Linked DNA regions of Homo sapiens: region 1 is linked to region 2. Evidence: fine-mapped expression QTL. A gene starts in region 2. The other region holds a variant in brackets. All regions are shown on one strand. Distances are from middle to middle.

What was found. PIP is the estimated chance that this variant, and not a neighbour inherited with it, causes the effect.
Region 1: its variant is fine-mapped to the expression of ASPRV1 in whole blood (TOPMed, PIP 0.99).

The regions. Positions count from the first base shown.
Region 1 is chr2:70,069,126-70,081,309 of GRCh38, reverse strand. All of the region lies in intron 4 of PCBP1-AS1 (PCBP1 antisense RNA 1), which reads left to right. It also overlaps a transcript of ASPRV1 not described here and the pseudogene RN7SL470P. Among named protein-coding and RNA genes, the nearest start is that of PCBP1-AS1, 12 kb to the left of the region's middle. RefSeq lists enhancers at 10,152-10,221, 10,159-10,453, 11,900-11,979. The variant C/T (reference allele first, on the strand shown) is at 5,749.
Region 2 is chr2:69,954,476-69,966,659 of GRCh38, reverse strand. It overlaps ASPRV1 (aspartic peptidase retroviral like 1), which reads left to right and starts at 5,029. Exons shown (of 1, transcript NM_152792.4): 1 at 5,029-6,571. The coding sequence starts at 5,224. The coding sequence ends at 6,003. PCBP1-AS1 (PCBP1 antisense RNA 1) reads left to right here. Exons shown (of 11, transcript NR_033872.1): 10 at 2,233-2,429; 11 at 3,160-4,397. LOC124906177 (small nucleolar RNA U13) reads right to left here and starts at 11,015; the gene lies at 10,913-11,015. RefSeq lists a silencer at 4,849-5,143.

The DNA of each region.
Region 1 (12,184 bases), 110 kb before region 2:
TGTTAGCCAGGATGGAAAATTTTTTTATTTGGAAAGGAGAGCTTTATTTCTCATAAATAAATGCCAGGCTGGGAAGTGAGCCTCCAGCCAGAAGCCAGAAACAGGCACTTCCAAGCAATGTATCTTACCCATATTGTAGATAGTAACAATTTGACCTCATATGCTGGTGACCCTGCACTGCTGTTAGGAGATCACTTCTTGGTTCTCTGAGAAATGTAAGAAATGTGTTGGGGTTGGTATAGCTGGGTGTGGTGGCTCACACCTGTAATCCCTGCACTTTGGGCGCAGAGGCAGGAGGATTGTTTGAGCCTACGAATTCAAGACAAGCCCGGGCAACATAGGGAGCCCCTGTGTCTACCAAAACAGTTAGCCCAGCTGCTGGGCAGGTTGAGGTAAGGAGTTTCAAACTAGCAGACTGCAAAGTGGAGGACAGGGAAGGGTATTCCAGGCAGAGGAAGCAAAGGCCTGAAGTCAAAGAAAGCACAGTCAATTGAGAAGTTGTAGTCATTTCAGAAAGATATGAATGAAGGATGTTTACATTATCCAGTTTTTGGTGACTATTGTTTTGCTACTTCACTAGTGTATATTATTGAGATTTGACTATACTTGCTAGAGCACAGAAAGTTAAAGGCTTTATTTTATAGCAATAATTCTCTTTTAAGGTGAAGACATCAGAAATTATACTTCCTGTCCAGAGATTCTAAGGAGAAAATGTAAATTAAACCTGACCTTTGAGTTAGCAAATGATTGATAACTCTCTGTCCTATAAAAAAAAGAAGGGGTGGCCGGGCACAGTGGCTCACGCCTGTAATCCCAGCACTTTGGGCGGCCGAGGCGGGCAGATCACCTGAGGTCAGGAGTTCGAGACCAGCCTGGCCAACGTGGTGAAACCCTGTCTCTACTAAAAATACAAAAATTAGCTGAGTGTGGTGGCACATGCCTACAATCCCAGCTACTTGGGTGGCTGAGGTAGGAGAATTGCTTGAACCTGGGAGGCGGAGGTTGCAGTGACCCAAGATGGTGCCATTGCACTTCAGCCCAGGCAACAAGAGTGAAACTGTCTCAAAAAAAAAAAAACAGAAGGGGCAGGGCACAGCCTACTCCTTTCTCTCTAACTTCTGAATCTTACCATGTTTTGCTTTGTTTTTGAGGAGGGGTATGTATGGAAATTTAGGGTCTTTGTTAAGCTGGTTAGGAGGTTTGAGTTAGAGGGGAGAGAAAGGAGTTCAAGAATGATTGCTACTTTATGCAGAACAAAAAAAATACATTTAAATAACTCATTTCTCTGATCCCACTTACTAAGCACAAGCAAGACTTAACGGATTTTGTTTCAGAGAGACAGTTACTTCAACCAGACAAAGCATTTGTTCAACATTATTCACTGTGTAATATTTGTTGTGTCCCGATTAAGAGCATTGATTTTTGCTTTTTGTATTTCTGAGACACGGATATAGCTGAATTAAATAGAACCCTTCTGTGTGTTCATTGGATAGTACTGGGATTTTTATGTGGATTAAAAGAGAAGAAAAGTGTTATGCGTGGAATAGGAAAGAACAGGTTTAGAAAATGTATGTAGAGTCAGTGGTCATTTCTCACCCATTTTTATTCTTGATATCTCAGTAGCATTTGATACTCTGTTGCACCCTAGCTTCACTTGTCTTCCAGGATGTCACTCCCTTGATGCTGTTCCTGCCTCACTGGTTCCTCCTTCTCAACTTTTTTTTTCTTATTCTTCATCTCCTCACTCTCCATTGGTGGAGTACTCAGAGCAGTCCTTGGATCCCTTCTCTGTCTACACTCTTTTCCTAGGTGCTCTCTTTCAGGACTTTATTTTTTAGAGACAGATTCTCACTCTGTTGTCCAGGCCGGACTGCAGTGGCATGATAATAGTTGACTGTAGCCTTGAATTCCTGGTCTCAAGAAATCCTCCCTCCCCTCCTCAGTGGCTAGTACTACAGGTACCCACCACCATGCCTGGCTAATTTATTATTTTTTTTTTTGTAGAGACAGGGTCTCACAATGTTGCTGAGGCTGGATTCGATCAAGACTTTAAATGCCGTTATTCCCTGACAATTCATGAGTTTACATTATTAGCTTGAATGTCTTTCCCTGAACTCAAGACTTATATCCAACTATTCACTGGATATCTCCACTTGGGTGTCTAATAGTTTGTTGAACTTATTAAAAAACTTCAGAACATCTCCTCTCAAATCTGCATCTCTGGAAGGTCCTCCCCATTTCAGAGTTGCTATTCATCTGTGTATTGAATATATAGAGAGTCTCCCTTAAATCTGTTTTTTCATTCTCTTCATCCAATCCACCAGCAGGTCCTGTCAACTTCACCTTAAGATATATCCAGTATTTAAACACTTCCCACCACCTGCCCTGCTGCTACTGGAATAGCTTTCTAAGTGGTCTTCCTCCTTTTGCTCTTTGCCCCCTCAATCTAATTTTAACAGTGACCAGAATAATCCTTTTAAGTATATATCAGATCAAGTCACTGCTTTGCTGAAAACTGTCACCTGGGTGCCCAGATTAAAATCCCACCTGGATTAAAAGGTAGTGTCCCTACCATGGTCTATAAGACCATGTAGGATTCACACCACTCTCTCCCAGCTGCTCTGACTTCATTTCCTACCACTTCCCCTTGTGCTGTAGCCACAATGGTCTCCTTTGCAGTTGCTCCAGCATGCCAGGCCTTGGGGCCTTTGTAGTTGCTTTTTCTGCCAGGAACATCATTTTTCCAGATGTCAGTATGGCCTTCTCCCTTATCTCCTTCAGGTTTCTGCTCAACTGTCACTTAATCAGTGAAATATACCTTAACTGCCTTGTTTAAAATAAAAGCTATCTCTCTGCCTTCTGCTTTCTCTGCTCCCCTTCCCTGTTTTTTCTGCATAGCACTTGCTATTTGACATATTGTTTATTCATTCATTGTTCATTATTTAGCAAGTATTTATTGAGTGCTGTCTGCTTGTGCCAGGCATTGTGTTCTAGGGACTCTCTACCATAGTTTATTACATGTCACCACCCACTAGAATGTAAATTTCATGATGGTTAGGACTTTGTTTTGCTCATTGCTATAGCCCCACTGCTAGAACAGTGCTTGTAACATAGGAGCTGAATGAATAAATTTATTTAATTATTATTTTTTTTGAAACAGAGTCTTGCTCTGTCGCCCAGGCTGGAGTGCAGTGGCGCGATCTCGGCTCAGTGCAGCTTCCGCCTCCCGGGTCTCCTGCCTCAGCCTCCTGAGTAGCTGGGATTACAGGCGTGTGCCACCACGCCTGGCTAATTTTTGTATTTTTAGTAGAGACGAGGTTTCATCATGTTGGTCAGGCTGGTCTCAAACTCCTGACCTCATGATCCACCCCACCTCCGCCTCCCAGAGTGCTGGGATTATAGGTGTGAGCCACCACGCCCGGCTAATTTATTTAATTTTTATTTTATTTTTTTTGAGACAGAGTTTCGCTCTTGTTGTCCAGGCTGGAGTGCAATGGCGTCGTCTCAGCTCATTGCAACCTCTGCCTCCCGTATTCAAGTGATTCTCCTGCCTCAGCCTCCTGTGTAGCTGGGACAGCAGGCGGACGCCACCATGCCCAGATAATATTTTGTGTTTATAGTAGAGGCGGGGTTTCACCATGTTGGCCAGGCTGGTCTCGAACTCCTGACATCGGGTGATCTGCCCACCTCGGCCTCCCAAAGTGCTGGGATTACAGGTGTGAGCCACTGTGCCTGGCTGACAGTTTCTGTTTAAAGTAAATACTATTTATCTCTGCTTTATTTTGAAAAAAAGTTTCATAATAAGTGTATGGTTTTTTTTCCTAATGAAGGTAATAAAGGTTTTATTTTTAAAAACAAAGACTTTAGAATATTGCTTTTTATAGAGTAACATGTTTCCAATAAATATTTCCCTTTTTCTCCACCCAAGTACTTATCCTGTATTACATGAAGGAAATGAAATAAAAAGACTGCAGCCCCACTCCCAGCTACTCAGTGAGGTGGTAGCTAGGTAAGAAAACAACCCTTTCCTTTTAGATGAAATTGGAACTTAGGAGGTAGTAATCTTTGGGAGAGGCTTAAAGGGATTGATAATGATGATAACAAAAATAATAGTAATGGCCAGCTTTGATGAACCGGGCACTGTGCTAAGAACTTTATGTTGGTTGCCATCTTCTGACAACCATATGATTCCGGTACTATGAGAAGTAGAGCCAGTGTAGTAGGAGTGAGGAGCATAGACTATGGGGTCGGACCTCCTGCTTTGACACCTAAGTTTTGCCGGTAACTGACTGTGTGGCCTTGAACAAGAAAACTGTGCCTCATTTGTACGGATAGTCCCTGACTTACAGTGGTTTGACTTACAATTTTCAACTTTACGATGATGCAAAAGCCATATATGTTAATTAGAAACTGCACTTGAAATTCTTAATTTTGATATTTTCCTGGCCTACTGACACGTTCTCATGATGCTGGGCTGCAGCAACAAGCTGCAGCTCCCACTCAGCCGTGCAGTCATGAAGGCAAACAACCAATACTGCACACTGTACTGTGTTTAATAAATTACATGAGATATTCAAGTTTATAATAGGCATTGTATTAGATGATTTTGCCAAGCTAGAGGCTAATGTTAAGTGTTCTGAGCATATTTAAGATAGTCTAGGCTGAGCTATGATGTTTGGTAGGCTAAGTGTATCAAATATGTTTTTGACTTACGGTATTCGAGATGTAACCTCATCATAAGTCAAGGAACATCTGTATTTGTACAATGAGGATAATGATAATACCTGCCTCCTAAGATGGTGGTGACGGTTAAATGCCATCAGCTATGTAAAGTGCTTAGCATAGTGCTTGGCACATAGAAAGTGCTTACCAAATGTCAGCTATTATCATAAAAATTAAAATAGTTGTTATTCTCATTTAAAAGATGGATAAACAAAGGCTTAGAGAAATAAGGTAAATAAAGTAATTTGTGTAAGTCACACAGCATATAAATGACGGAATTAGTTTGCACCCAGGCAGTCAAACTCCAGAGCTTTTGCTAACCATTACGCTGCATCACCTTAGTAGGTTGAGAGGAAGACTGGGCAAAAACTGCATCTTGTCAAACTTGAGTGTAGGGGTAAAGGTCAGGCTTGAGTTCTGACTTACCTAACCTTCATTGTGATCTTAAGCATCTTATCAGTGTAGCATGTGCCTCGATTATTCTCTGAATTGATTCTTCCCTAGATCCAAAGACATGAATGATAGGTTAGTTATATTCTTCTCCTGCTGAGGGATTGGGTGTTCCCTGGACCGGGAAATGGAGCTAAACAAACACCTATGTCTCAGTGCTTTTTGGACCATAAGTAAGAGCTTGTCCGGCCTCTCTTGTTATTATGCTTGTTTATTTTTTCACATGACTGGTAATGATGAGAAGCAGAACAGCATACACATTGAGAATTTTCTTTTTTTTTTTTCTTTGAGACGGAGTTTTGCTCTTGTTGCCCAGGCTGGAATGCAATGGCGTGATCTCACCTCACCGCAACCTCCGCCTCCCGGGTTCAGGCAATTCTCCTGCCTCAGCCTCCCAAGTAGTAGCTGGGATTACGGGCATGTGACACCAAGCCCGGCTAATTTTGTATTTTTAGTAGAGACAGGGTTTCTCGATGTTCCTCAGGCTGGTCTTGAACTCCCAGCCTCAGGTGATCTGCCTGCCTCAGCCTCCCTAAGTGCTGGGATTACAGGCGTGAGCCACTGTGCCTGGCCACA[C/T]GTTGAGAATTTTCTACATGCTATGTACTCTACATGGATTATCTCATTTAATCCTTAAAAATAACCTCATGGTGACTCTTATCCCCGTTTTATAGAGTTGAAGAGAGGTTAGAAAACTTGCTTCAAGTTGCACAGTTAATAAGTAGTAGAGCAGGGATTTAAATAAGGCAGTCCATCCTGAGTTCATGCTTGCTTTTTTTTTTTTTTTTTTTTTGAGATGTTGTCTTGCTCTGACCATTCTGGCTAACACGGTGAAACCGTGTCTCTACTAAAAATACAAAAAAAATCAGCTGGGCATAGTGGCAGGCGCCTGTAGTCCCAGCTACTCGGGAGGCTGAGGCAGGAGAATGGCGTGAACCCGGGAGGCGGAGATTGCAGTGAGCCGAGATCGCGCCACTGCACTCCAGCCTGGGCGACAGAGCGAGACTCTGTTTCAAAAAAAAAAAAAGATGTTATCTTGCTCTGTGGCCAGGCTGGAGTGCAGGGGCGCAATCTTGGCTCACTGCAACCACCTCCATCTCCTGGGTTCAAGCGATTCTCCTGCCTCAGCCTCCCATGTAGCTGGGACTACAGGTGCATGCCAGCATGCCCAGCTAATTTTTCTATTTTTTAGTAGAGACAGGGTTTCACCATGTTGGCCAGGATGCTCGATTTCTTGACCTCGTGATCCGCCTGCCTCGGCTTCCCAAAGTGCTGGGATTATAGGCGTGAGCCACTGCGCCTGGCCCCGAGTTCATGCTCTTAACCTCTGCACTCTACTGCTTGTAGTCTTTTCTTACCTCTGTTAAGTAGGTAGTATGGACTGTGTGGTATAAGAGTAGTAGGGCCAGCTCTGTTTTTCTCATATGAAAAATGGGAAGATTTTGACCACTGGACTAGGAATAAAGAGGACTGTGATCTTGACTTGACCCTGCCACCAACTTGCCATATTTAGGACTTCACTTTTTTTAGTTTTATGGTCCTTATTCATTAAACAAAGGGGTTGGGGCCAGGCGCGGTGGCTCATGCCTGTAATCCCAGTACTTTGGGAGGTCGAGGTGGGCGGATTACGAGGTCAGGAGCCTGGCCAATATGGTGAAACTCTGTCTCTACTAAAAATACAAAAAAAGGCCAGGTGTGGTGGTGTGTGCCTGTAGTCCCAGCTACTCGGGAGGCTGAGGCAGGAGAATCGCGTGAACCCAGGAGGCAGAGGTTGCAGTGAGCCAAGATTGTGCCACTGCACTCCAGCCTGGGCGACAGAGCAAGACTCTGTCTCCAAAAAAAAAAAGCAGTTGCTCTAGATGGCCTCTGAAGTCTCTTTGAACTCTGATGTTCTGTAATTGATCATAGGAAGTAAGAGTAACACCTGCTTAACACCTGCTTAGCTCCTTGAGTTTGGGGCAATGGTATTTGTGATTTCTGTTTTTTTTTTTTTTTTTTTTTTTTTTTGAGATGAAGTTTTGCTCTGTCGCCCGGGCTGGAGTGCAGTGGCGAGATCTCGGCTCACTGCAAGCTCCGCCTCCTGGGTTCACGCCATTCTCCTGCCTCACCCTCCCGAGTAGCTGGGACTACAGGCGCCCGCCACCATGCCCGGCTAATTTTTTTGTATTTTTAGTAGAGATGGGATTTCACCGTGTTAGCCAGGATGGTCTCCATCTCCTGACCTCGTGATCTGCCCATTTCGGCCTCCCAAAGTGCTGGGATTACAGGTGTGAGTCACCGCACCTGGCTGTGAGTTCTTAGAGAGTCTGCCTTGTGCAGGGAAGATGCCAGATTCTAGGGCAAGGGATGAGCCGTCTCCCTGAAGAAGGTAGATCTAGGTTCTTTTTTGAGGCTGGTTGCCAAGGGAACCCAGCCTCTGGCCAGCAACAGCCAGCAATGCTTTGGTTGAGGCTTGGGTACACATAATGAAAACAAGCCGCACATTTAGGTTTCATTCCTTGCCTTTCTCCCATCTCCACCTTTCCTTTTTCTTTCCTTGTTAAGCTGCTAGTTTTAAACACATTCATGTGTCAGACACTGTTTTAAATACTTAACAAAGTATCGTTAAGTATCGTTAAAGATTAAATGAAGTATCATTTAATCTTCACAGTAATCTTACAAAATAGGTACTCTTATTCTAAACAGAGGCAAGTAGAGTTAAGTAATTTGTCCAGATTTACTCAAGAGAAAGTAGTATCAAACCCGTACTTTTAGCTACTAAGTTGTACTGCCTGGTTGGATATTTAAAAAAATAGAAGAGGGACTTCTTAGTTATTTATTAGTGGTTTTTGTTTGTTTTGTTTTTATTTAGAATAAAAACTCTTGGAGCTGAAAAGAGCCTTTGAAGTAATTTTATGCAGTCTCCTTGTCTCCAGCCTGCCATCCAATTACAGGAATGTTTTCTATCATTCTCCTGACAAATGATCTTTCAAGTTCTCTTTGAATACCTCCATTAATAGGGGAGCTCATCAGTTCTTAGGACATCGTTGTTGAAAAGCTCTCATTGGTAGAAATATAATCATAATTTTTTGAGATAGGGTCTTGCTCTGTCACACAGGCTGGAGTGCAGTGTTGGATTACAGCTCACTGCAGCCTCAACCTCCCTGGCACAAGCGATCCTCCCCCTCAGCTTCTCCCTTCTCCGAGTAGCTGGGACTACAGGCACATGCCACCATGCCCGGCTGTTTTTTTTTTTTTTTTTTTTAGTTTTTTATAGAGACAAGGTTTCACTATATTGTTCAGACTGGTCTCGAATTCCTGGGGTCAAGTGATCCTTCTGCCTTGACCTCCTGAAGTGCTGGGATTACAGGCATGAGCCACCATGCCCTGCAAAAAATTATTATTTTTGTTTTTATTTTATTTTATTTCATTTTATTTTTGAGACGAAATCTTGCTCTGTCGCCCAGGACAGAGTGCAGTGGCACAATATTGGCTTACTGCAACCTCTGCCTCCTGAGTTCAAGTGATTCTCCTGCCTCAGCCTCCCCAGTAGCTGGGAGTACAGGCACTCACCATCATGCCTGGCTAATTTTTTTATTTTTAGTAGAGACAGGTTTCATCATGTTGGCTAGGCTGGTCTCAAACTCCTGACCTCAAGTGATCCTCCCGCCTCGGCCTCCCAAAGTGCTGGGATTACAGGCGTGAGCCACTGCGCCCAGCCACCTGGCCTTTTTTTATTTTTAAGAGATAGGGTCTTGCTTTGTCACCCAGGCTAGAGTGCAGTGGTGTGATCATAGCTTACTGTAGCCTTGAACTCCTGGGCTCAAGTGATCCCCCTGCCTCAGTCTTCTGAGTAGCTGGGACTACTGTGTGCCACCACACCAGGCTAATTCTAAAAATTTTCTGTAGAGGCTGGGTGCAGTGGCTCACACCTGTAATCCCAGCACTTTGGGAGGCCGAGGTGGGTGGATCACTTGAGGCCAGGAGTTTGAGACCAGACTGGCCAATGTGGCGAAACCCCATCTCTACTAAAAATACAAAAGTTAGCTGGGCATGGTGGTTCACATCTGTGATCCTACCTACTCGGGAGGCTGAGGCATGAGAATTGCTTGAACCCAGGAGGCAGAGGTAGCAGTGAGCTGAGATCGTGCCACTGCACTCCAGCCTGGGCAATAGAGCGAGACTCTTTCTCATAAAAAAAAAAAAGAAAGAAAAATTTTTGTAGAGACTGGGTCTCGCTATGTTGCCTGGGTTGGTCTTGGACTCCTGACCTCAATCAGTCCTCCCGCCTTGGCCTCCCAAAGTGCTGGGATTACAGGCATGAGCCACTGTGCCCTGCTGAAAATTATTTCTTGTTTTGAATTGAAATCTAATTGAGACTTCTCATTAATTTAATTTTTGTTTTTATTTATTTATATTTGAGACGGAGTCCCACTCTGTCACCCAGGCTGGAGTGCAGTGGCACGATATCGGCTCACTGCAACCTCCACCTCCTGGGTTCAAGTGATTCTTCTGCCTTGGCCTCCTGAGTAGCTGGGATTACAGGTGTGTGCCACTACGCCTGGCTAATTTTTATATTTTTAGTAGAGATGGGGTTTCACCATGTTGGCCAAGCTGGTCTGGAACTCCTGACCTCAGGTGATCCTCCCACCTCAGCCTCCCAAAGTGCTGGGATTACAGGCGTGAGGCACTGTGCCCGGCCTAATTTTAGACCAGTACCCCGGAACTATACAGAATAAATGTAATACATCTTCCACATGCAAACTCATGAACCTTTGAAGACAGTCTTCCTATGTGTAAGACATATTTGCAGTTTATCCTAATACCTAAACTTGCTTTCAGTTCAGATCATTCTGCACAGAAACAATTTCTACTTCTCCCTACTTTGTAAATGCAGTCTGACAAATCTGTGCTTCACTTAGGATTATTTAGTTACAAGGTGAGTATGCTTTCCTTTCCTCCTTGAAGAATGAATTGATGGTGAGCTAAGTCTTTACAATTGTCTGTGAGTTTGGAGGGTTTGCAGTCTCCTACTCTTGTAATCATTAGGAGGTCAGGCTGCTGCCCTGCTGCATACGCCATCAGAGCTCACAAAATGGCTGGAAGTTTATCCGGGCACTTGACAAACTGCATTTACTTCATCAGGCCACTAGGTGATGAACAACTCACAAACCCAGACTGCCAGGGACTGTGGTGTACAGGGCAGTTTCTGTTTATACTTGGAAAGGCCATTCGAAGTCATCTGGTCCAAACTCATTAAAAGGTTTTTGTTGGGGAGGGGAAACATGTTTTTTATATAGTTTGTCTTTCCTGGCTTTGTTACAGTTAAATGTTAATTGCCTGGGACATTTCCTTTTTTTTTTTTTTTTTTTTTTTTTGATACGGAGTCTCACTCTGTCACCCAGGCTGGAGTGCAATGGCACAATCTCGGCTCACTGCAGCCTCCGCCTCCCGGGTTCAAGCGATTCTCCTGCCTCAGCCTCCTACAGGCGTGCGCCACTGTGCCCAGCTAATTTTTGTATTTTATTTTTTTAGTAGAGACAGGATTTTGCACTGTTAGGCTGGTCTCGACCTACTGACCTCATGATCGCCCGCCTTGACCTCCCAAAGTGGTGGGATTACAGGCGTGAGCCACCACTTCCAGCCAAGTAGGACATTTCTTTGAGTGATTTTCTTAGAAGGGGGGCATGAGTGGTACTTTCAAAGTCTTTTTATGTCCAATTTCTTTTTAACCTTCGTGTATGAATGATATTGTGGTTAGGTTTAGAATTCTTGGAATACTAGTCCTAGTCTCGACAAAGTCTAAGTAGCTTTCCAGTGTTTTGAGTTTCTGGTGATACAGATGAGAAGTCCAATGGGATTTTTTTTCCTTGTAAGTAATAATCTGTTCTCTTGTTCTGGAAGTTTGTGAATTTTTATTTATGCTTAGAGTTTCCTGTGGTATGCTTCTGGTATGTCTTTTTTTTTTTTTTTTTTTTTTTTGAGATGGAGTCTTGCTCATGTTACCCAGTCTGGAGTGCAATGGCACGATCCCAGCTCACTGCAACTTCTGCCTCCTGGGTTCAAGCGATTCTTCTGCTTCAGCCTCCCGAGTAGCTGGGATTACAGATGCGTGCCACCACGCCTGGCTCATTTTTGTATTTTTAGTAGAGATGAGGTTTCGCCGTGTTGGCCAGGCTGAGGTGTATGCCTTTTAAAAATAACACTTGTTGGCACTTGATGAGCCTTTTAGACTTAAAAACTTAAAGTCTTTTTTCTGTTCAAGGTTGTTTTATTGCTTCCCTTTCTTTTTTTTTCCAACCTCCTTACTTTATAGAACTCAGAAAGGTGAAGTGACTTGTCCAAGCTCATATAGCTAGTTACAGATGAACCTCAAGCAAATAACCTGACTCCTTTGATGAACTAGACTTTTGTGTATTGAATATTGCTCCATTGAGAGGGCCATTATGAACAACTTAGAAACTTTTTAGTGAGACAGGAATTTTGCCAAGCCTTTGTGGGGAGATGAAGAAGGAAGAAGAGATAAAATTCATTATTTGTGGCCCATTTGAAGGGCTAAAGAATTCGCAAGTTCCCTGGTATCTCAGTTATTGAGCTACCCCGAAGCTCTAAAATGTAATAAAACCAGGAAGTTGCTTGAGCACTTGGAGAATTAGATTTTTAGTAGTCAGGAGTTGGATAAATGTGGTCATGCCCTATTGTAAATATCAAAAACATATAAATGGCATCCGAAGGCTTGGAGACAGACATCATAAACCATGTCTTATCAGTGGTCTGGTTTCTGTTTTGAGTTCCAACCTGGGATGCTTCTGTGGGAACCACCTGTTCCTGGCTCTGTTGATCTTTGGATTTCCCCAGCCCTTCAGTCCCTTTCAGTTTTGAAATGAAACCTACCCCAGAGGGCGAGGTCAGGTTACGAAGAGGACTTTGACAGCTCACCTTGGGTTGTTTTTTTCCCCCAGAGCTGTCTAGTGTGTGACTGTGTGAGGTGTGAGGCTCAGCAGGCTGTGATACAGATTAATTGATGGTGAATCAG
Region 2 (12,184 bases):
CTGGTGTCATTAGAAGCCCACTTGTAGTTGGAGATTACCCAATCTGAATGTTTTGATTGCCTGAATATTTCACTAATTGCAGGGGTGTTTGTCAAAAGTGACTTAATGTCCCCAAAGCTGTCTGGAGACCTGTGTTACAAGTCCCACTCCCAACCTCAGTTAAGCAGAGGGGACCCTGAAGAGGGGATGGGAGGAAGGGAATCTGCATAGGGTCTTTCCTTAGAGCCAGCCCCTCTTGCCAGGCAGGGCCCTGGCCCTCCGTGGCAAGGATGGGGCAGGAAAGGATGACGGCTTGGTCTAGGGTGGGGGCACCAGCAATTGGGAAAAAGGCAGAAACCCAATTCGGAGGGCTGGGCCCTGAGGAGGTGACTGAGAAGGCCTTCAGGACATCTTAGTAATCTTCATCTTTGATTGAAAGATAAAAACAGGGGAGAACCGGTTTTGGCAAATTGGACTTCTAGGAGTTAGTCAGCAACTTGGTCTGACCAACTCTTGGTTGGTCCTGGCCTTGACCCCAGGCCTGGAGGCTTGCAATGGCACTGGGGCCAGGACCACTGCTCCCCAAACACCTCCAGGACCCCCCAGGGTTGGGACTTGCATTAAGCATTTTGCTGCCTCCTGACATAGTGGATTTGGCTGGTGGGCTGCGCTGGGCCACTTTGGTTAGAGGGGTTCTGAGCTAGGGGCAAAGAAGGGTAGGAGGGAGACCCAAATGGGAAGAACAGGTTCTGGAACAGTGGCAAGCTGGGGAAGGGCCCTGCAGGCAGGAGAGCTCTGTCCTTCAGCGGTGACACTGGCCTACTGGGTGAGGAGTGTGGCAGGAACGCTCATGTTGAGGAGGTTTGGCAGGGACCAAGATGGGGGTCCAGTCAAGGTCAAGCTGTCCTGCCCGTGTGCCCTTGGCCATGACTGACTGTGAATGCTGGGTGGTGCCCAGCTGGGTGGTAGGAGCAGGCATGGGTGGTCTGGGGGTTTAGGTTTGGGGATAAGGAAACTGCAGGTGCCTTGGATTTCCAAATGTATCTCGCTGTGGTCAAAGCTCTTGGCTCCTGTGCAAGCTGCCACTGTGTTCTGGGAAGTCGTCAGGCCGCAGGAACAATCTGAAGCAAACGTGTCCTGCCCGCTTTGAATGTGGCCCAACACAAATTTGTAAACTTTCTTAAAACATTATGAGTTTATGAGTTTTTGTTTTTGTTTTTGTTTTTGTTTTTTTTTTAGCCCACCAGCTATCGTTAGTGTTAGTGTATTTTATGCATGGCCCAAGACAATTCTGGTGTCGCCCAGGGAAGCCAAATAATTGGACCCCTGGTCTAAAGTGTTTGAGGTGGGCCAGGCATGGTGGCTCACGCCTGTAATCCCAGCACTTTGGGAGGCCGAGGCGGGTGGATCACAAGGTCAGGAGATCCATCCTGGCTAACACGGTGAAACCTGTCTTTACTAAAAATATGAAAAATTAGCCAGGTGTGGTGGTGTAATCCCAGCTACTCAGGAGGCTGAAGCAGGAGAATCGCTTGAGCCCAGGAGGCAGAGGTTGCAGTGAGCCGAGATCACGCCACTGCACTCCAGCCTGGGCGACAGAGTGAGACTCCATCTCAATAAATAAATAAATAATAAAGTGTTTGGAGTGAACTCACTGCCCACCAAGGGCTTCAGGTCTCAGGAGGCCCGATGGGCCCAGTCTTGGGCTTGTCTTGATGGGCCCAGTCTTGGGCTTGTCTTGATTTGCCCAACTGGCCTGAGGGAGACTAAAGCAGGCAAAGGATCCAGGTGAATATAAGAAGTGAAACAATTTCAAAAAAACAGCAGAAAAGAAACAGCAAAAGGGAACCAGGGAGCTGAGAAAGAATTGGGCTGGTTGAGCTCACAGCCCAGAAATCTCAGTGAGGGGGCGTGGAGGGTAGGGAGCCCCACTCCTTCCTGTTTATTGTCCTGCTTTGCTCCTGCAGGGTTCAGTGCGGTGTGCTTGCTTCAGGGTACACCCAGGAGACGCTAATGGGTGATAATGAGGGTGTCCCGCCCCAATACCTATACTTGTCAATAATTAACCATGATTTCCTAGGTTCTGGGAGGAGGTAGTGGCACCTGGCCTGCCCTGGCTGGTTTAGCTCATGGGGCACCTCTGGCGTAGCCATTCCAAGGTCTCTGTGTGCTTCCAGGCTGTTCTAGGGATGGGTACCTCCCAAGGCATAAGGGAACTTGAGAACTGACCTTTACCCATGTTCCTGATCCTAGCCAGAGACAGACTCCCAGACTCGGCCAGAGGCTGATGCCAACTCCTTCCAGCTCTCACGGTAACCATGAGGCCCCTGCGTGTTTCTGTTGTGGAGGTCCCAGAGGGAACTGTATGGACAGACACAGCCCGAAGGGCCATCTGCCTCAAGCCACAGCAGCACAGAATTCTAAAGATTGTGGGGAAGGATGGGGCCAAGGTGGGCTTGGGCTCCTTGGTGAGAGAGGTGATTTGGGCCCAAGCAGCTAAGCAGGGGTGGAGGTTACTATAAACTTGTTCATCACCAGCCACAGTGCTTTGCCTGCCCTAGAGAGTCAGTGTGACCAAGGCTTCCATGCAGGGGTGTGATGGAACTGGCATTCCAGAGGGGGAAAAAGTCTTGATTTAGCATTTGCCAATTTTGGTGATGTAAATACTTCCACCAAGTCTGATTTCAAGTACCAATTGGTTTAACAATTGACTCACCAAATTCCTGAATATTTAACAAGCAGCTCTTTGTCCACTGCCCACCAGACCCCTGCCCCCGGCGCCTATGCTATACCTCTCTCAGCCCAGCGCTTCACCTCCCTGTCCTTGCAAAATCCCCTTCTCTGGCCGCTGGAAAGCCTGGGACCTGAGGCCATTGAAGCTCCTGTGCTCCAGGGTCCTGGAGCGGAGCTGGTCTTCTTCCCAGGTTGTTATACTCCTCATGGAGGTGATGTGTGTAAAATGCTTTGCCAATGTGAACACCAAACCCACTCAAATGAGGTCCCAAGGGACCACCGATTTCTAGTCTAAGGGCAGTAGGGAGATCGGAATTCAACATCTACCACTATGGTTTGAAAAGCCGGTTCAGGGCATTTGGCAGTCCCAGCTTGTCAGCTGACAAGCCACCTGCCTCGCTCCTCCCTTGGTCGCATGCTAACCTCCTCACTCATTTCCACTTCCAGGGGACCAGATGTGCAGAGGTAATGAATACCAGGGAATCAGGAAACCACTGGATCAGTTCTTTGAGCCACAGAACAACACTCATCCCAGCAGCTGGGAAGCTATCTGCAAAAGTCCATCTGCAGAAAGGGCTTCCTGGTCTTGCGTGTGGCTGGGCCATTTCTCTGGATGCAGGTTTTTCATTATACAGTCTTCTCAAAGAACCACCTGCTCTCAACACCTTCTCGGTGACTCCATTTCCCCTCCTCTGGGCTCCTGGAATGCCACAATGGCCCCACCTTAGCCAGGCAGCTGTGATGAGAGGTGTTGACCCAACTGCCTCTCTGCTGGCTCACTGAATCAGGTGGAAGGGGCTGGGGACAGCACAGTCTTGCATTGTGGTTGGGGACCTGGGCCATCCAGAGGCAGGACTGTCCAAAGGCAGGGTACTGCTGGGATTCCGCCAGGCACTGGGTGATGCATGGCATAGGGAGCTGAAGAGGGACAGGCTCTTGGCCAGGAAAAACAGCCCCAGAGCCACAGGTGTGCCATCGAGTCTTCCTCCTCTCCCATCCTTAATCACTCCTGTTTGGTGACAGCACACAGCTAGGCCTGGAGCCCAGCAAAGAGCCCCTGGGTCCCAGAGGAAGTTGTTCTGGGGGCTGGAGACAATCACAAATGCCAGGTTTGTGAGCCCCAGACTCTGGTTCATAGCAAGAGGCAGACTTGTGAACAAACCACCAGATCACACCGTAAAACACGCTCAACGAGGAGTGGGTGCCCTTTCTAGGGACAGGCAGAAGGCTCCATGGAGTGACCTTTGAATGGGGACATAAAAGTGGATCCCTTCAACAGCCCCTGCACAGCCCCAAGTCAGGCCTCCAGCCCTTGGACTCACAGATGTCCTCTGTAGACGACTGGATGTCCTCCCGTGCTACCCTTTACCCCTGCAGCGAGGGGCACAGAGCCAGAGCCCTCCAGGTCCTCACCACTGGCATCACCAACATAGTGGACATTTTCCCTCTCAGAATGAAAAGGGAGTGAAATTTCCCGTGATCTTTCCACAAATGACCAGCTTGGGGAGTGGGAGAGGAAGTGCTGCAGTGCCTGGGGAAGGGGCCCTGGAACAGTTCCTGGAAATGGAGAGGGGTGGATAGGGTGGAGACAATGCTCATGGAGTGCAGTATGGGGCCTACCCAGAGTTGCTTGGCCACCCCTCTGCCTCTGAATCAGGGGTGATCAATGAAGGAAAATTACTGCAGCAGTTGAGTCCATGTAAGATGATTGTGCACGTGTGTGTGTGTGTGTGTGTGTGTGTGTGTGTCCTCACTCACTTAAAAAAGACCATTTCTGTGCATTCTTTATGCTGGAACCCTCCTCTGCCTCCCTCTCCAGGAAATCCCATAGGATCCCATACCTGCTTTAGAATGTGTGTGAGACACTTCCCAGTGCCTGGCATGTGGTAGGAGCTCAGTACATGTAAACTGTTTTCCTTTGACCACTCAAAGTAGTCACTTGTTGGGGAGGCCAATGGCGGCTTCCCCGGTCTCTGAGCTGATGGGCGTCTGGTCCCTGCCTCCCCTTCCTTCACTGGCTGATGACAAATACCTGAATGTCATCACATCCTCCGTGTCCTCATCTGTTATTCTGGAACACAGGCCAGGGAGGGTACAGGGTAGTCCCCCTTCAACAGAGGCTGGCCTTTCTTGGGATGTGGGCTGGCTGGTGTTGGTCCAAGGATGGATGCAGAGGGTGAGGCACCCATCCTGCTAGTCCGGCCGGATGCTGGCAGGAGGGCGGGGTGAGGAGGGGCGGAGCTTCCAGAACAAAGGAGAATGGGGAGCCCAGGGGCCAGCCTAGGCATCAAAAAGGCTCTGCAGAGTGAACAGGCCACAGCACTGCCTGCCTCTGCCCCAGCAGTCAGCCAGCCGACCGCGCCTGCTCCCTCCTGCTTGCCCAAGGCCGGGCAAGTCATCCCCACTCTGCTTCGAGAGGCCCCGTTTTCCAGCGTGATTGCGCCGACACTGCTCTGTGGGTTTCTCTTCTTGGCGTGGGTTGCTGCTGAGGTTCCAGAGGAGAGCAGCAGGATGGCCGGGAGCGGAGCCAGGAGTGAGGAAGGCCGCCGGCAGCATGCCTTCGTCCCGGAACCTTTTGATGGGGCCAATGTCGTCCCAAACCTCTGGCTGCACAGCTTTGAAGTCATCAATGACCTCAACCATTGGGACCATATCACCAAGCTAAGGTTCCTGAAAGAGTCCCTCAGAGGAGAGGCCCTGGGTGTCTACAATAGGCTCAGTCCCCAGGACCAGGGAGACTATGGGACTGTGAAAGAGGCCCTCCTGAAGGCCTTTGGGGTCCCTGGGGCTGCCCCCAGCCACCTGCCCAAAGAGATCGTCTTTGCCAACAGCATGGGTAAGGGCTACTATCTCAAGGGGAAGATTGGCAAAGTGCCCGTGAGGTTCCTGGTGGACTCTGGGGCCCAGGTCTCTGTGGTCCACCCAAACTTGTGGGAGGAGGTCACTGATGGCGATCTGGACACCCTGCAGCCCTTTGAGAATGTGGTAAAGGTGGCCAATGGTGCTGAAATGAAGATCCTGGGTGTCTGGGATACAGCGGTGTCCCTAGGCAAGCTGAAGCTGAAGGCACAGTTCCTAGTGGCCAATGCGAGTGCCGAGGAAGCCATCATTGGCACTGATGTGCTCCAGGACCACAATGCTATCCTGGACTTTGAGCACCGCACATGCACCCTGAAAGGGAAGAAGTTTCGCCTTCTGCCTGTGGGAGGGTCCCTGGAAGATGAGTTTGACCTGGAGCTCATAGAGGAGGACCCCTCCTCAGAAGAAGGGCGGCAGGAGCTATCCCACTGAGAAGCCACCTTTTCTTTAACCTCCTAAATATTGGTGGGAAGACCCACCGCTGTGGGGGGGGTTGCATATCCTCATGGGGGTCACTGGGCTTGGCCAGTCTGCTTATCAACTCTTGCTCTTCTCTCCCCTTTGCCTCCCTCTGCAGGGGCCTTAATCTGCCCCTGGTAGGGGAGGCTTCCACTGAACAGGCACAGGTGAGGGAGAGCAGGCTGGCTTAGAGGGACAGGGTCCCCATGGTCATCAAGCTGCTGTTGATGACAAAGACTCAAAGGCTGGAAGAGCTCCCAAGGAAGCTAGAAATGCTTGTCTTTGAAAGAACTGTGGGACCCCTTCAGATTCCCTGAGGTATGGCTTGGTCACTCTCAGGTCCTCAAAGCCTGTCTTAGTTGGGCTGGGTCCTAGCTGCAGGGTCTTTGTGAGGGTCACAGTTGCTCTGGGACACCTCCCTGAAGAGCCTTTCCACCTGTACAATCGTATTTTCTTTCTGTCATTTGCTTTGAAGCCCATTGTGCCTTATGCCAATAATTCAATTGCTGCAAACACCAATAAAGATTGATTCATGGAAAAACCATGTAATGTGTTGATTGAGGATGAGAGGAATGTGAGAGGGAGTCAGCATCAAAGACAAGGGAGATTCACATGTCTACTGAGTGCCTAGCTGGAGGTATAAGAACATATACACAGGGATGACAGGTCTTGGATTTTCTAAGACAGTCTCAGCATAAAATATTTTGACTTATTCCCTCCAGAATTGCTCTCATTATTTTGAATCGTCATAATTCCTCTACTTATTTCAATCTGTAGTATTTTAGCATACAAATTGCCTCTATACCCAAAAGTGACCCTAAAGTTTTATGTGAGATGTCTTGATTGGGGATTGGGAAATTATGGTTATGATAAACAAACAGGAAAGTGTCTGCTGGGCAAATAGGTTCTTACAGCTGTCCAGGAGCGAGAACTTGGAGGCAGAAAGCAGGGCCAGGAGACAAGTGTTGACCTGTGTGGGGCAGCCCAAGGGCATGCTGGAGGACGGGGGAGGCTGTGGCAAGGCAGGGTCCCGGCGGTGGGAGGTCAGCTTCTTCTTGGAGGGACTTGGAACAGAGCCTGAAACTAGATGACCTGATGGAGGGGAGGACATTCCCAGATCTGGGAATGGGGTGTGCATCTCTTTTAGGGGTCCATCTCGTATTTGCTTCCAAATTTCTGTTTCTTTTTCTGGAGTGCAGCAGGGCTGGGAATCTGAAACTCAAAGGGAGGAGCTGAGTGGACAAAAGTCTCCACAGAAGAGCCAGTTTGTTCCAAATCTCAGGCCTCCCCACCAAGCACATCGGGCGAGCCTGTTCTCAGGGGAGGGTGGCCTGCACCCTCCAAACTTTGGGCCCAGGAAGATTGGCGCAAGGTCAGAGACTCGAACGTGCAGGGATCCCAGACCTCTTGATGGAGGCATGAAGGACCATTTTCCATCCTCCAGGGTGGAATGAGCCTCTTGAAGTTCCCACCTGGACAGCTCCTGAGGGAGAGACAGAAGGCAGGAGTGAAGCCCCTGGACTTTTTGAAGCTGATCTGAGCCAGGATCAGCTGCCCGTCCCTGGCCCCTTCTTCCCTCCGATTCCAGCTGTGATTCTCCTGGGAACTGAGGCATGGCTCAGCCCCTAATCCTCGGGGTTTACCGAGGCCCCTTCCCTGGGCAGCCAAGCATCTTAACTGAAATTAGCTCCATCAGCCCCAGGGCACCTGGAGGAAGGACAGGTGTGGGATCAGGAGGAAATCTATTTCCAGAAAAGTGATGCCTAGAGAAGTGGGTGGGAGAACTGGAGAAGGGGGTGAGAGAACTGGAGAAGGCGATGGGGGAACTGGAGAAAGGGTGGTCTCCGGATGACTCCCAGATCCTGCATCCCCCTTCTCAAATTTGATTTTCAGCCCCACTCTCTGTGGCCTAACGCATGCTGCTCTCTCATGGGCCGAGCCCTCTCCCGAGGGAACAATCCAGGTGGCACCTCCCTGTGACTTATTTTCCTCCAGGTCCTTTGGATCCCAGCCACGTGCTGGGTAGAAGGAGGGAGGGTAAAGAGTCTGTAAGTGGGTGGGTGGGGAGCTGGGGAGGGGACTAAGGAATTGGTGGCCAGGCCAGAATTCCAGAGCAATACCCCAGCCTCCCTGCCCTTTCCCACACACCACACGGAGTGGAGCCCTGTCCTGGGTGATTGCAAATGGGATGCTGTGTCCCAGCAGCAGACACCTTCTTCCCCTGCTCTGAGTGAGGAGAGCCTGTCTGAGCCCCCAGGTCTCCAGCTCTCAGCCAGTTTTCTCTCCTAGAGAAATGTGGGCCCCCCGAGAGGGCACAGTGAGGGGTGGGGTCTGTGACATCTGAAGCATGGCCCCCATGGAGGAAGGGACCATGTGGTGCTTCTTACTGGGAGACCCGAGTGAGGCTGAGACCGCTGCTGCATGCGGGTGAGAGTGATCACAGCTGCAGATGCGTCAACGTGGAACCCAGCTGCAGGACTATGAGCAGCTGCTCTCTGGGAAGTCAGGTATCAAACAACAGAGAAGCCCGGGAGAGAAGCCAGAAAAAGTGGGTTGTGGCCACACCACAGAGGGCTTGCTGTCTGGGTGAGGAGTTCACACCTGCCTCCCACAGTGGGCGTTTGAACCATGGGAGAGCAGGAAGATTCATCTGCCTTCTGGGTATAGGATGGAGTAAAGCAGCAGCAAAGGCTCTGCTGGGACACCATGGCAGTCCTTATACCTAAGGTCTGCTTTTGCAATGATGGAAAGGAGGATGCAGGATCAGTGTGAAGGTTTAGCCTTTGGAGCACATGATAATCACCAGAGAAGACCCATGAACATCAGTTCCTCCAGTGGTCCCAAAGTGCAGCAGGCTTGGGAACCCATGGTCTAAATTCCAGTGGCATCTACCCCTGTACTGCCCAAAGGGTGATCCATGAACCAGCAGGAAGGCGGCATCAGCATCACCTGCGAGCCTGTTGGGAATACAGACTCTCCATCCCCACCCAGACCAGCGCCAGAATCTGCAGTGAGCAAGATCCCCAAGTGATTCTAGGGGACATAAGAGTTTGAAAAGCCCTGGCCTAGAACATTCTAATACCTCTAGTTAAGGGGGCCCTACAAGCTGCCTTCTTCTCTAATAATGACCACCACAAACTGAATGCATGCCAGTTCCCCAGACCATACTAGATAATTCTTTATGCTTTTATCCAGAAAATCTTTAAGTCTTAATTTGAGACTAACAGGAAAGTTGCAAGAGCAGTACAAAGAATTTCCACGTTTCACCCAGTTTCCCCAAATATTAGCATTTTTCCAATTAACTTCATCATCTCTCTCATTCTCATTCCTTTTCTCCTATCTATATATATAGGAACCTTTGAAAATCGCAAATATGATGCACTTTTATCTCTAAATACTTCAGTGTATATTTCCTAGGGGAAAACAACAACAACAACAAGGGCATTCTCTTATATAACCATGATGCAGTTATCAAAATCAGGAAGTTCACTGATGTAATACCACTATCATCTGATCTTCAGATCTTACTCCAATGGTTCCAATTATCCCAACAAGAACATTGTTGGCCCCCAGATTATTTTCTAGTCCAGGACTGAATTCAGCTACATATTGCATTTAGTTGCCGTGTCTCTTTCATCTCCTTTAATCTGAGTAATTCCTCTGTCTTTGTTTTCATGACCCTGATAGTTTTGAGGACGCCTGGCCAGTTATTCTGTAGAATGTTCCTCAGTTTGGCTGAATCTGATGTTCAGTTGTGGTGAGATTCGGGCTGTGGGTTTCGGGCAGGAATACCCAGAAGTGATGGTGCATCCTCAGTACATCGTATCAGGAGGCATATGTTGCCGACTTGTTTCATCACTTGGTCAAAATGCTGTTTGCCAGGTTTTTACTCCATAAATAACTATTTTACCCCCGTCATGAGTAAGTGTCTTGTGGGGAGACACTCTGAAGCCATATAAATATCTTGTTTCTCATAAGACTGTCACCACTAGCCTCAGCACCCATTGGTGATCTTTGTCTGAATTGTCACTGTGATATTACCAAATTACCAAATGATGGTGATTTTCTAATCTCCTTCTTCTTCTTCTCCTCCTCCTCCTTCTCCTCCTCCTCCTCCCCTCCTCCTCTGCTTTCTTCTTCTTCTTCCTCTTTTCTTCTTCTTCTTCTTCTTCTTCTTCCTCTTCTCCTTCTCCTTCTTCTTTCTTCTTTCTTCTTCACAGGGTCTTGCTTTTTTGCCCTAGCTGGTCTCAAACTCCTGGGCTCAAGTGATCCTCCTGACTCAGCCTCCAAAGTAGCTGGGCTTACAGGACTAATTCTATCCTTCTATACCTATTAGCTGGCCCTCAACTCTACAGAAGAGCTTTCTCTACTCATTTATTGGTTGATTTATACCATGTGGACTTAGAGATTCTTATTTTTCTATGAGTTATACTCATTTACAATCATTATTTATTTTGATGCTCAAATTGTTTTAGATTTGGCCATGGGGACAGCTTCAAACTGGCTCCTGTCTCCTTGGGACGTGTCCCCATCATCATAAGAGCCCTTCCTTATTTTCTGGCACAAGATGTTCCAGGCTCATCTTGTCCCTTCCCTGTACCAGCCCTGGGATCAGCCATTTCTCCAGGAGCTCTGGTTCCTTTGAGTGGGGTCTGATATTCAGAAACAAGGATCTGGGTGTCAGGTGTGTGTGCTTCTTGCTACTGGCATGCCATCACTCCTAGGACCTCTCAGTGGTCAGAGCTAAGAAGAAAACCATAGAGTCCACTTCTCTATATTTCTCTCTCTCCCTCTCTCTATTATGAGTTCCTGCTGATACTTCCAATTCCAACCCCACACTCTAGGACTTAGTCTAACCTTCCCCTTTATTTATTATTTCTCATGTCACACAGCTACTGTGCCGATGTTGTAGCAAGGTGCGAGGTGGCACATCACACACGCTCCTGCAAACATCCAATCATCACGCTTACAAGCTACAAAAGGATCGTAACCTTCCCCTTGAGATTTGTGACTTCTTTCTCTAATAATGAGAAACCTGGCTCCAGGTTACTTATTTGCCCAGTTCTAAAATACCCAGAAAGTTGTTTCCGAATTGCTAACCCATGCACCTATGGAAGAGAAGCTTAGGAGCGCCCACTCATTCAGATCTCCCACCCAGTGCCAGGTGTGGGTGGCCATTGGCAGCAAATGAGAAAGACAAATGAGGAAGCCGAGCGCAGCTGCTGGCGGGAGAGTGGAGGTCTCCCAGGTGTGCAGGGAGTGCCTCGAGGGCCAGTGTCAAGGTGTGTCCTTATCTGAGGACACGATGTGTCCATCAAGAGGGCAGCTGGAGTCATAGACTGAAGGCCATGAGTCCTGCCCTTGTGGCCATGCGAGGGAAGGGCCAGCCTCCACGCTCCAGGGAGGTGACCTGGTCTGCCCACCTGGTCCTCTACACTGAGGAGATACTGGGGCAGCTGTCAGACATGACGCCACCCCACGTTCCAGGCCCATCAGTCACTGCTCCTGTATTGAGTCCACCGTTGCCAAGTAACCTCGGGTAAGGAAGCCTCTTGGCTGGGTAGCAAGAAAAGCTGTTATGCTTTTCACTGTGGGCTAATCAATTGGCTCTCAAGTTTTGACTGCTTGATATTGTGGGTCAGTAACCCCCAAGCCTGGAGAACTGTGTAACTCTGAGCTGGACTGTGGTGACTTCTCCAAGGCACATGTGGTGCTCTTCCTGTCTCTAGGAGTTCCTAGCAGAGCCTCTCCCTGCACTAGGAAGGACGTGAAGGGAGCCCTGTCCTCTAGGACAGTCTGGGAGAGGGAGGCAGGCAGGGCTTAGAGTGACCCTGTGCTGTGACCTCCTCCCCACTCCTGTGCTGGGTGGGACATTGTGCAGTCAGGGACAGCTCCCTAGAGATCTTTAAGTTGAGTCTTTAAAGATGAATGAATGGATGTTTCCCGGGAATATTTGGGGTGGAGGGAGGAAAGGGAAGAAAACAGGGAGGCAAGGACAAGCCTGCTGGTGTTGGCTAACAGAGACAGGAGGAGAAGACGGGGGCCAGCATGGATCCTCTCATATGGACTTTGAGGAAACTCCAGGAGACCAGGGAAGGAGATGCTGCTTTTATTTCAGCTCTAAAATGCACTCAATTCAAAAGTGTGTTTTAAG